Homo sapiens: one gene and its partners. The protein of the gene in region 2 purifies or fractionates together with the protein of the main gene of each other region. This does not show direct contact. Each region holds a gene or a part of one and is shown on either strand. Other genes may lie near its edges. The genes, in order: CD22, INPP5D and CLYBL.

Region 1 (3,645 bases), on a different chromosome or scaffold from region 2:
TAATCCCAGTCCCAGCATTTTCTTTTTCTTTTTGAGACCCAGGTCTTGCTCTGTCACCCAGGCTAGAGTGCAGTAGCAGGAACATAGTTCAGTCTGCAGCCTTCACTTCCTGGGCTCAAGTGATTCTCCCTCCTCAGCCTCCCCAGTAGCTGGGACCACAGGCACGCACCACCATGCTCAGCTAATTTTTGTATTTTTTTGTAGAGATGGTATCTCGCTGTGTGGCCCAGGCTGGTTTCAAACTCCTGGGTTCAAGAGACCCTCCTGCCTCAGCCTCCTAAAGAGCTGGGATTGCAGGCGGGAGCCACCGCACCTGGCCTCATTCATTCAACAAGCATCTACAGGCCGGGTGCGGTGGCTCACGCCTCTAATCCCAGCACTTTGGGAGGCCGAGGCGGGTGGATCACGAGGTCAGGAGATCGAGACCATCCTGGCTAACACGGTGAAACCCCGTCTCTACTAAAAGTACAAATAATTAGCCGGGCGTGGTGGCGGGCGCCTGTCATCCCAGCTACTCAGGAGGCTGAGACAGGAGAATGGCATGAACCCGGGAAGGTGGAGCTTGCAGTGAGCCGAGATTGTGCCACTGCACTCCAGCCTGGGAGACAGAGGGAGACTCCATCTCAAAAAAAACTAAAACACAAAAAAACAAGCATCTACCAAGCACCCTCCATGAGCCAGGCCCTATGCTAGGAGCTGAGACAGCAGTTGTGAACAGGAGACCCTGGCTGCTCCTTGCTCTTGACTCCAGGACCCCGGAATGCCCTGCACCCCATCTGCCTTCCCCGTTCCCTGTGTCCATCTTCTCTCCCTAGAACCAGAGGCTCCGTGGCTACTCACACTGGACATCCAGCTCAGCTCCCGGGCCCCTCTGTCCAGTACCAAGAATGTTTTCTGCCACACAGGAATAAGTCCCAGCGTGCCAGGGGAGGATCTTTGGGATGTGGACTTTCTCCTCTGTCCTTCCCTGCATTTCTTTCCCATTGTGGTACCACGTGTAATTTGTTGGAAGAGGATTGGCCAGTGACATGCAAAGAAACTCGACTTGACTTCCCTCCACAGCCGGTGAGTGGAGGATCTGAACCGTGGAAGGTTCCGGGGCATCTGGAAGAGGGGGCAGAGGCGAGTGGAGGGGTGAGGAGAGCACCCCCAACCTGTGCACACGGCCCCGAGAGCCCCCGTGGCTCCCCTCTCCGGGTCCACCCCTGCTACCTCCCTGCCTGGCCTGTCCCCAGCTCCGAGGGGCTCACACTGCACTTGCAGGAACACTTCTTCCGACCTTCCCGGGCCCACGTCATTGGAGACCTGACAGCAGTACTTCCCACTCTGGTCCTTGGTCACTTCGCGCAGGTTTAGCGTGAATGTATTCTGCTTCTTCAGCGAGGTCCCATCCTTGAGCCAGGATACCGTCGTGTACTCCGGGTTGCTGCTGCTGACCTCGCAGGTCATGGTCACAGAGTCCCCCTCCCTCACTATGGCATCACTGGGAGTGACCTTGATCTCCAACTTCGGGGTGTCTGGAGGAGCAGAGGGGCAGTCGGGGAGGGGGCGGGGAATCCTCAGAGGGTGGAGGGTGTGGAAAGTGCTTTTATTCTGACAAAGCCATGGCCTGCCAGTCCCTTCACCCAGGTGATGGTCACAGCCTCCTAACTCGGCTCTCAGCTTCCCCCTCCCACTTCCTCTACTTCTTGGTCTCCACCAGCAGCACGCAGGGTTCCTAACACCATCTACCAGACCTCGCCAATCCTGCTGGAAACCACGAGCGGGTTCTGTGCTTTGCATAGAATCCCAAACCCTCACCTCAGCCCTCGGGATCCAGAGTCCTGCTCCATCTCCTGCCTCCTGTCCTACCATGTGGCCCTCAGAGGCGGTGAACTTCAGCCTCTGAGGTCCTCCCACCCAGCTGCTGCCTCAAAGCTTTGAACCTGCCCTTCTCTTTCCCTGAAATCCTCCTCTCCCAAATATGTGCCGGCCTCAGCCACTCCCTCCGTTCCAGTCAGCTTAAGTGCTCACCTTCTTTTTTTTTCTTTTTTTGAGATGGAGTCTCACTCGTCACCCAGGTTGGAGTGCAGTGGTGCGATCTCAGCTCACTGCAAGCTCCGCCTCCTGGGTTCATGTCATTCTCCTGCCTTGGCCTCCCAAGTAGCTGGGACTACAGGCGCCTGCCATCATGCCTGGCTAATTTTTTGTATTTTTACTAGAGATGGGGTTTCACCATGTTAGCCAGGATGGTCTCGATCTCCTGACCTTGTGATCCCCCCGCCTCGGCCTTCCAAAGTGCTAGGATTACAGGCGTGAGCCACCGCACCCGGCCTAAGTGCTCACCTTCTTAGAGAGGTCTCTCTCCATCACTCCCCTCTCTCGGCCTTATTTTTTTCCTAACACACATATCACTACCTACAATAGTGTTGTATATTTCTTTGTTAACATTGCTTTGTTCCAGATTCTAATGTCTTGGCTCATGCTCTGTATTTCTTTGGTAATCCATTTGTTGTCTGTCTCTTTCACTGCAGCGCTGGCTCCGCGTGGGGCAAGAGTTTTGCTCACTGCTGCACCCTGCCCACCGCCCCATGCCCCCCATTGGCAGCCGTAATAAGGCCTGGTACCTAGTAGGTTCATGATACGTATTTATTGAATGAATGAGGCACAAGATAATGATGCGAAAAAAATCCCCACCAAGAGGGGAACAAAAAGACCTAACCAGATAATCCCCAATTCATGTCATGGCTTGAGGATGGACCATTTTATTCTGTTAGGCTAGAGCAAATCTTTTTCCCGAAACACCAGGGCTGACAAGGCGGCGTGACCAGGGCTGGAGGATGCCGCCGTCTGTGCAGGCTTCCCCCTGCCCTGGGTGCATGCCCCCTGCGGGGCTGGGGAGAAGGTGACACAGACCTTGCCCTTCCCACAGGCATGCCGGGGAGACTCACGCTTCACGTTCAGCTGCACCGTGTCATTGGAGAGGAACTTCCCATCTGCATCCTGAAGCTGGCAGGTCACAATCTTCCCATGGTGACTCCACTGTGGGGAGAACTTGAGCTCGCTCCGGGTGAAGACAGACTTGATGGTCAAGGAGGTCGAGGTGACAGCAGCCTGCCTCATTGGAACCCCCTCTAGGAGCCACTGCAATTGGATCGGATACCCATAGCAGGAGAAATTCAGCAAGCAGGTCAGAGTGACTTCCTGGGACTCTTGAATTTCTGGAGGGAGCTGGATATGAGGTGGAAAAGGCCTTTCTGCAAAAGAACAGAGCCCGTGCAGGAGCCTGGGGGACTGAGGACGTGAGCGTACACCTGGCTTTAGATGTCCTGTCCCAAATCACCCCTCAGGAACCCCTTGCCACTTCATTCCACCTCTCTCCAGTCCTGCTTTGTTTTTTTGTTGTTATTGTTGTTGTTGTTGTGTTGTTGTTTTTTTGAGATGGAGTTTCCCTCTGTCACCCAGGCTGGAGTGCAGTGGCGCGATCTTGGCTCGCTGTAACCTCTACCTCCCCAGTTCAAGTGATCCTCCTGCCTCAGCCTCCCGAGTAGCTGGGATTACAGGTGCCCACCACCACACCCAGCTAATTTTTCTGTATTTCTAGTAGAGACAGGGTTTCGCCATGTTGGCCAGGCTGGTCTTGAACTCCTGACCTCAAGTGATCCT
Region 2 (3,645 bases):
GTATTTTTAGTAGAGACAGGAGTTTCACCATGTTGGTCAGGCTGGTCTCGAACTCCTGACCTCAGGTGATCCACCCACCTCGGCCTCCCAAAGTGCTGGGATTACAGGCATGAGCCACCACACCTGGCCCTCTGATACATTATTAATGAATCTCCTAAGGCTGGACAGTAAGGTTGCTTCTGATTTTTTTCTGTGCTGAGGCCTGTGCTGCAGAGCCGTGACAGGGTTGGACTTCTGCGCAGCTCCTGATCACTTTGTTAAAGTCGCACCTTTGCAGGGGAGTGTCTAGGCCAGAAGCCACTCGCTTATGACTTTGGACACATGTTTCCAGGTTGCTGTCCTGGAAGTTCACACTGATTTACGCTCCTCTCAGTTTTCTTGAAGCTGACCAAGTCCTTTGCAAAGTGTAATGTGCAGGGAGGCAGAGGCCTTTCTAAGTCTGTCTGCCCTTCCATCCCTAGAAGAGAGAAGGCTTCTGCCAGCTCCTGCAGCAGATGAAGAACAAGCACTCAGAGCAGCCGGAGCCCGACATGATCACCATCTTCATCGGCACCTGGAACATGGGTGGGTCCGCGCGCCCCCTCCCTGCAGTCACCCCCTCTGCTTCTGCTTTCCTGACTCAGGCATCCTCAAGGTGGGGTGGAGTGACGACATCCATGTCCCCTTCCTTCCTGCCCCAGGGCCCTGCCCCTAAGCCCCAGCCCACCCGCACAACCTCCTTCCTGAGGAATTCCACCCTTTTCCTGAGATGATGGGTAAGAAAAACGAGCTTTGGGACTATCGTACCCCAAGAGCAGCTGGCGTGGGTTACTCTGTATGTCTAAATTGGAAAGTTTTAGGGAAAGAGTCTGAATATCTAGGTGAAGGGGCTCATGGGAACCCTGCCAGCCCTAGGCAGCTCACCAAGGGGCCCCAGGCCTGAGAGAAAGAAGTCCACCCTGAGTAGGGTTGCCAGATTTATCAGGAGAGAGACAGAGAGAGACAGAGAGATAGGTACGTAGACAAAGGATGCCCAGTTAAATTTTAACTTCATAGAAACAATTTTTTTTAGTATATGTTTAGCTACAAACAAATAAATACTAAATATATATGCTCATAGACATTATGCTGAATATATAGTATATATACATATGCTAAATAAGTGTAATTATTATATTAAATATGAATTATACTAAGTAATATTAGTTTAAGCATACAGCTAATAATATACTAAATATATGCTAAATATATTTTGTATTAAACATATATATTGTGTATTTACTAAACACATGCACTCTACTAAATATAAATAATACTAAATAATTTTTTAGTGTAAGTGTTCAGGTAGAAATAAATTAGATAGAAGACATCCAGATAAACTTATTCTAAAAACTACCAGTTTATCTGAAATTGGAATTTCACTGGGTGTCGTGTGTCCCCTACCCTTGTCCTGAGAGGAGTCTGGGAGGAAGAGGGTGAGCAGTGGCTGGCAGGGGCCTCCTGGAAGTGAAGTGACAGCTTGTCACTCGTGTCCCAGGGCCACAGCAGCCGTGGAGTAGAGCCCGGGCCAGTGCCCCAGGGGGTCACTTGTCCCCTTCGGTCCCTTTCAGTGTTTCTAATAAGAGACAATAGTCTGCCTGATCTCCTCCCTCTGGACATGGTCAGGGATGTCCATGACACAAGGGCAGGGGTGCCCTTCCCACAGAAGAGTATGGAAGGAGCCAGCTGAGGCCATGCCGCAGGAGGGCCGGGGACCCACCAGCCCGGGGGTTCGGGCACCCACTTTGAGCCTCTTGGGGGAGCAGAATTTAGCCACAGTCCATTTACTCCAATGCTTGGCTTCTTTGCACTTGTAAGGCAAGAAGCTCATCTCTTTGAGGAACAAAGTTTGCTCATCCTTCAAGGGCATTGTAGGGAGAACCGTTCAAAATTTCTTGATTGAGCTTCTTCAACTCAGTTTTGAAATGGGAATGCGGAGGAGTTTCCACACTCTCCCGTTTCTCTGGCTCACACCCAGGCATCCCTCCGCTCTGGGCTGGGATCTGTCTTGCAAGGGAGACTTTGTTGTCTCCCAACAATGGGTTAGAACCCGCCATCTAAAACTTGTCAGTTCCCTTGGCTGTCTTGAGAATAGGATGTGAGTTCCTTGAGGGACAGGACTGTGTCTCAATTATCGTAGCCTCAAAGTGCAGGACAGTGTCTGACATCAGGGAATCTTCTGGTGTTTCTATACCTTGAAACTTGACATTACGTTTAAAAAGAGGCTTAACTGAGCTCTAGCCCTAACCGACATCCTGGGTGAGGTTGGCGCCCAGGCCTCCATTGCAGGCATTTCTTTGGGCTGCCTGGATGGTCTTGTGTAATGACGTGACCTCCCTCACACTCCCGCCCTCTGTTTTGAATTCTCCTAATGCTTTGACTCGATGTGCCTTTGACTCACTTGGTGTTGGGTTTTGCTGTTGAAGGTAACGCCCCCCCTCCCAAGAAGATCACGTCCTGGTTTCTCTCCAAGGGGCAGGGAAAGACGCGGGACGACTCTGCGGACTACATCCCCCATGACATTTACGTGATCGGCACCCAAGAGGACCCCCTGAGTGAGAAGGAGTGGCTGGAGATCCTCAAACACTCCCTGCAAGAAATCACCAGTGTGACTTTTAAAACAGTGAGCAGCTGGCTGCACGCTGGGTGGGCTTCCGGGATAGAATCTTTGCTCGGCTGGGCTGTCTCAGAGGCAAGGGTGGGCTCAGCCTATCAGCTCTCAGTTTTCAAGGATGTCTGGAGGCCCCCACTGAGAGATGCGTCTGTATTCAGAAATAAATGGGATCTGTGGGGTATTGCTGAAAACCACTGAGTCCTCTATCTTCCCACCCTTGGTCAGCCCCGGTTCTCATCTTTAGGATGTTTTGTCTCGCCTATCAAGCATCGCTGGGAGTCCCCCGAAGGGTTGGGATTACAGACAGGATACCCCATACCCAGGGGCTGCGGCTGGGGCTGGGTGTGAATCACTGTGCCCTGGTTCACACCCTACACTTGGGCCGAGTATTGCAACGTTGTCCTCCCACCAGGTCGCCATCCACACGCTCTGGAACATCCGCATCGTGGTGCTGGCCAAGCCTGAGCACGAGAACCGGATCAGCCACATCTGTACTGACAACGTGAAGACAGGCATTGCAAACACACTGGGTGAGCAGGGCGGGGACCCTGTGTTCCTCCCACACCCTCTGCCTCAACTCTCGCGACCACATCATCCTGATCCCACCAGTAGTTCCCCGGGTTAAAAACAGAGAGCCTCACATCCTCAGATCCTGGCTCAGTCCTCAGCAAATAGGGGTGATTGGTCTCCCTGGCTGAAACTCACTCAGGGTCTACACCAGCAGTCCCAGGGATCTAGCTAAAATGCAGGTTCCGACCCAGTAGATCTTGGGTGGAGCTCAGGGTTCCAAGTTTCTGACAGGTTCCCAGGCGACTTGAGCGCTGCTGGTCGGCCCGTGGGACCCATTTTAAGAAGCAAGAACCTAGAAGAGGCATTGGCCAACTTTTGCAGGAAAGGGAAGGGCCTGACAGTAAATATTTCAGGCTTTGCAGGCCACTCAACACTATTCCTCTCTGCCTTTCTGGTGGGAAAGCAGCCATAGGCAACCCAGAAAGCGAATGGGAGTGACTGTG
Region 3 (4,148 bases), on a different chromosome or scaffold from region 2:
TTGGAAGACGGAGCAATCAGCAAACCTAAAAACAGGTCGGCTGGGCACGGTGGCTCACACCTGTAATCCCAGCACTTTGGGAGGCCAAGGCAGGTGGATCACGAGGTCAGAAGATCGAGACCATCCTGGCCAACATGGTGAAACCCCGTCTCTACTAAAAATACAAAAATTAGCTGGACGTGGTGGCGCGTGCCTGTAATCCCAACTACTCGGGAAGCTGGAGCAGGAGAATCGCTTGAACCCGGGAGTCAGAGGTTGCAGTGGGCAGAAATTGCGCCACTGAACTCCAGCCTGGTGACAGAGCAAGACTCTGTCTCAAAAAAAAAAAAAAAAAAAAAAAAAACAAAGACAGGTCAATTGACATTGTCCAGCCTGAGGAACAGAAAGAAAATGGAACAGTCTCAAAGACCTGTGGGGTTCCATCAACTACACCAACATATACGCAATGGGAGCCTCCGAAAGAGAAGAGAGAGATAAGAGAGTAGACTTTTTTGAGAGAACAATAGCCAAAAACTTCCCAAATTTGATGTATACACATCCAAGAAACTCAATAAACTTCCAAGAGGATAAACTCAAACAGATCTACACACATCATAATAAAACCACCGAAAGACCAAGACAAAGAGAAAATCAAGCAAAAAAAAAAAAAAAAAAAAAAAAAAAAAGACTCATCACTTACATAGAACCCTAATAACATTAACGTCTGAATTCTCATTAGAATAATGGAGGCAAAAAGACAGTGCGATAATACGCTTTAAAATGCTCAAAGGAAAAAAAATGCCAATCAAGAATCCTATATTCAGCGGGTAGACATGTCGAGAACAGACCAGTGTGCTAAGGCGGGTGAGGAGCACTGAGTTAACCCCCAGCGTACTGGCGTGGGGACTGTGTGCGCTCACTGGACCCGCTACTGAACAGGTCACAGACGCTGGCCCCCTCAAAAGGCGCCAGAAAAGGACCCTTCTGGACCAGCCTGGATACACTGCCTGAGCTGCTCCTCTAGGGCGAGGGGTGACTCCCCTGTGCCAGGGGCAGCGGAGGAAATGGGAAAGTGGGATGCATAAGACTAGGTGGGTCCTCCCATAGGACATGGGTGACTGAAGAGTCACAGTGCAAGAAGACGTAAGAAGTTCAGACCCAGGCCGGGCACGGTGGCTCACGCCTTTAATCCCAACACTTTGGGAGGCCGAGGCAGGTGGATCACCCGAGGTCAGGAGCTCCAGACCAGCCTGGCCAACATGGTGAAACCTCGTCTCTATTAAAAATACAAAAATTAGCCGGGCATGGTGGCGGACGCCCTGTAATCCCAACTACTCCGGAGGCTGCGGCAGGAGAATCACTTGAATCCGGGAGGCGGAGGTTGCAGTCAGCTGAGATGGCGCCATTGCACTCCAGCCTGGGCGACAAAAGCGAAACTCCATCTCGGAAAAAAAAAAAAAAAAAAAAAAAAAGAAGTTCCAGACCACCAGGCCGGCCATGGTGGCTCACGCCTGTAATCCCAGCACTTTGGGAGGCTGATCCGGGTGGACCCCCTTGAGGTCAGGAGTTCGAGAACAGCCTGGCCAACATGGCGAAACTCTGTCTCTACTAAAAATACAAAAATTAGCCAGGGGTGGTGGTGCACACCTGTAATGCCAGCCACTCAGGAGGCTGAGGCATGAGAATCGCTTGAACCCAGGAGGTGGAGGTTGCAGTAAGCCGAGATTACACCACTGTACTACAGCCTAGGTGACAGACCGAGACTCTGTCTCAAAAAATAAAAATAAATAAATAAAGAAGTTCCAGACCAGGAGCCATACACTTAGTGTTTGAACCAAACTCTCTCATTACTGGTCATAGGGCTTTGAGAATCCTTAACCTTTCTGACCCTGTTTTTTCATCTTTATAAACATGACACCCAACTTCTTCACATGGTGGTCAAGGGAACCAAATGAGACCATGTATGTGCACGTACCTAGGCGATGGGCAAGTGCTAGACCAGCGGTTCTCAAAGTGTGGTCCAAAGACACCTGAGGGGGTCCCTGAGACCCGTTGAGAGGGTCTGCTTGGTCCTCCCTTTCCCAACTAATATCTGCATCTGCATGAGCCCAGAATTTCTTTCAAATATTTCCTTCAAAACAGCTGATATGAGACTCCAGCTGTCCTTTATTAAACCAAAGAAATTTTCAAAAATATAAAAACCATGAGCCAATCTTCTCACTTTTTTTTTGAGAAGTTATGCATTAAAGTGTTATTTGTATTAAAAGTTAATGGGTTTGTTATTAAGTGAATATTTTTTAAATTTCTGGTTTAATTCCTCATGCACAAAAATCAATAGATATAAGCAAAAGCTTTGGGGGGTCCTCAAATTATTTTTAGACGTGTAAACGGGTCCTGAGACCAAACCGTTTGGGAACCGCTGTGTTAAACGAACCGCAGGTGTTCTTCACCAGGCAAGCCGCCTCTCAAAGACTGGCGCGTTCACGTTTGCCATTTGGGGGAGGCAGGCAGTTTTGTTTCCTGGGGCTGAGTCCAGGTAATTCGACCTAAGGTGTGTACCCATTTTCCGGGTGCAACGAGGGCCCTCCCAAAGGGAGGCGCGGGCGGCAGCGACCTTGGACGAGGTCGAGCCAGCGCGTGGGAGGCGCATGGTGCTTCCGTCCGGCTGGGTTCCCGTGAGGGCTTGGGGAGGCCGCGCCCGGCCCGCGGGGCTGCAACAGGAGCCGACCCGCGGCGAGCCGGGCCGGGAAGGCGGGGAACGGGGACCTGCACTCACAGCCTCAGCAGCGCCGCCGCCGCAGCTCCGCGCGCCGCCCTCCGCAGCAGACGTAGCGCCATCTTCCCGACGCGCGCGCCCCGCCCTTTGCCTTTAGCCACGCCCACCCCACATTCCACGCCCCCACGGCGACACCGACCCCCCCCCCGTCCCAGGCCCCGCCTCGCTCTGTCTTCGCCCCGCCCCGTCCCGCCAGCCACACCCCGCCAGCCACGCCCTCCTTCCTCCCAGCACCCGCTCCGCCCCGCGGCGAGTCCCGAGGTCAACTGCCCTCCCGGCCAGGGCTTAGGACCTTCGTCCCCGCTGTCATGGGGGACAGAGCAGAGGATCTGAATGGTTGGGGCCTCTTTGAGGGGCCTCTCTGGTGACCGAATCCAACTCTCTGAGCTTCTGAGTTTTTGAGGCAACTGTTGACAGACTGCGTTTTCCCAGCCAGAAGAGCCAACATTTCTAGGGATTTCTTCGCAGCTTTTGTTGTTAAAATACCGCCTAATACTTTGTGAGCCCCATCATGTGCATATCTTGGTTAGCAATTAATCTAGAGTGGTCAAAGTGCAGGAAGGCTGCATCCTGGAACACACATGCCTGCAATAGGTCAGAGCAGCTGTTGGCACTCTCTGGGCAGGGAAACTGACAGCAGCTCTTTACTCTGCCCCCTGCAGCCGTTCTGCAGCGGTGAGAACGCCGAGGCGTTAAAACAGGCTGGGCCCTGCCCCTGCCTCTTCTTTCACCTTCCCTGATCCAGCCGGCCTCCACCTGCCGACCTTCACCTACCCGGGCCCATGTTACCCCTTAACCATGTCTTTTCCTTGGCACTCGGCATGTTTCTTTTTCAGCTGTGACTCCGTTCCATTCATGCTCTAGACTTAAACCTGAAACCGTTTCTCAGAACCTTCCAGTGGAAGCTGACTTGTGCTCTTGGATGCAAAAAGTGGCCGTTTAAACAAACAAAAGCCTTTTCAGCCAGAGGGGGTTCCAAGATTTGGAAAAGTCCAGGTGACTGGGAACATGGATGCTAAACTTCTGCTGAGCCTAAGAATTATTGTTATATTCGATACCAACAGGGGAGACTGCTCAACCCCTTGGTGCCCTCCCCCAGCTCCCACGCCTGCTCCACCTCAGGCCTCGCCTGTCTACTCCAATTTGGTCACTTTCTTGTCACCACCTTAGTCCCAGCCAGTGCCCGGTCCAGCCATACTGAAGCCTGAGGCAAAGGCAATTTCAGTAACACCAATCCTGTCTTTAATTAAAATTTTGATATTTTGTTCATAATGGGATTTTTCCATTATCTTGGTTTTTAGTTTAGAATATTACTTTTTTTTTTTTTTTGAGACAGTCTTGCTCTGTCGCCCAGGCTGTAGTGCAGTGGCACGATCTCAGCTCACACACTGTA

What was found.
Region 1: the proteins of INPP5D (region 2) and CD22 purify together in Homo sapiens (affinity purification with western blotting; one study listed by BioGRID). This does not show direct contact.
Region 3: the proteins of INPP5D (region 2) and CLYBL purify together in Homo sapiens (affinity purification with western blotting, with the first as the bait; one study listed by BioGRID). This does not show direct contact.

Annotation. Positions count from the first base shown.
Region 1 is NC_000019.10:35,335,627-35,339,271, reverse strand, and holds part of CD22 (B-cell receptor CD22 isoform 1 precursor), read right to left. Parts: intron 3,237-3,645; coding exon 2,931-3,236; intron 1,518-2,930; coding exon 1,251-1,517; intron 1,105-1,250; coding exon 841-1,104; intron 1-840. UniProt on the Homo sapiens protein: Most highly expressed siglec (sialic acid-binding immunoglobulin-like lectin) on B-cells that plays a role in various aspects of B-cell biology including differentiation, antigen presentation, and trafficking to bone marrow.
Region 2 is NC_000002.12:233,161,263-233,164,907, forward strand, and holds part of INPP5D (phosphatidylinositol 3,4,5-trisphosphate 5-phosphatase 1), read left to right. Parts: intron 1-461; coding exon 462-564; intron 565-2,444; coding exon 2,445-2,641; intron 2,642-3,044; coding exon 3,045-3,162; intron 3,163-3,645. UniProt on the Homo sapiens protein: Phosphatidylinositol (PtdIns) phosphatase that specifically hydrolyzes the 5-phosphate of phosphatidylinositol-3,4,5-trisphosphate (PtdIns(3,4,5)P3) to produce PtdIns(3,4)P2, thereby negatively regulating the PI3K (phosphoinositide 3-kinase) pathways.
Region 3 is NC_000013.11:99,605,365-99,609,512, reverse strand, and holds the start of CLYBL (citramalyl-CoA lyase, mitochondrial isoform 1 precursor), read right to left. Parts: upstream 2,824-4,148; 5' UTR 2,818-2,823; coding exon 2,756-2,817; intron 1-2,755. UniProt on the Homo sapiens protein: Mitochondrial citramalyl-CoA lyase indirectly involved in the vitamin B12 metabolism. Converts citramalyl-CoA into acetyl-CoA and pyruvate in the C5-dicarboxylate catabolism pathway.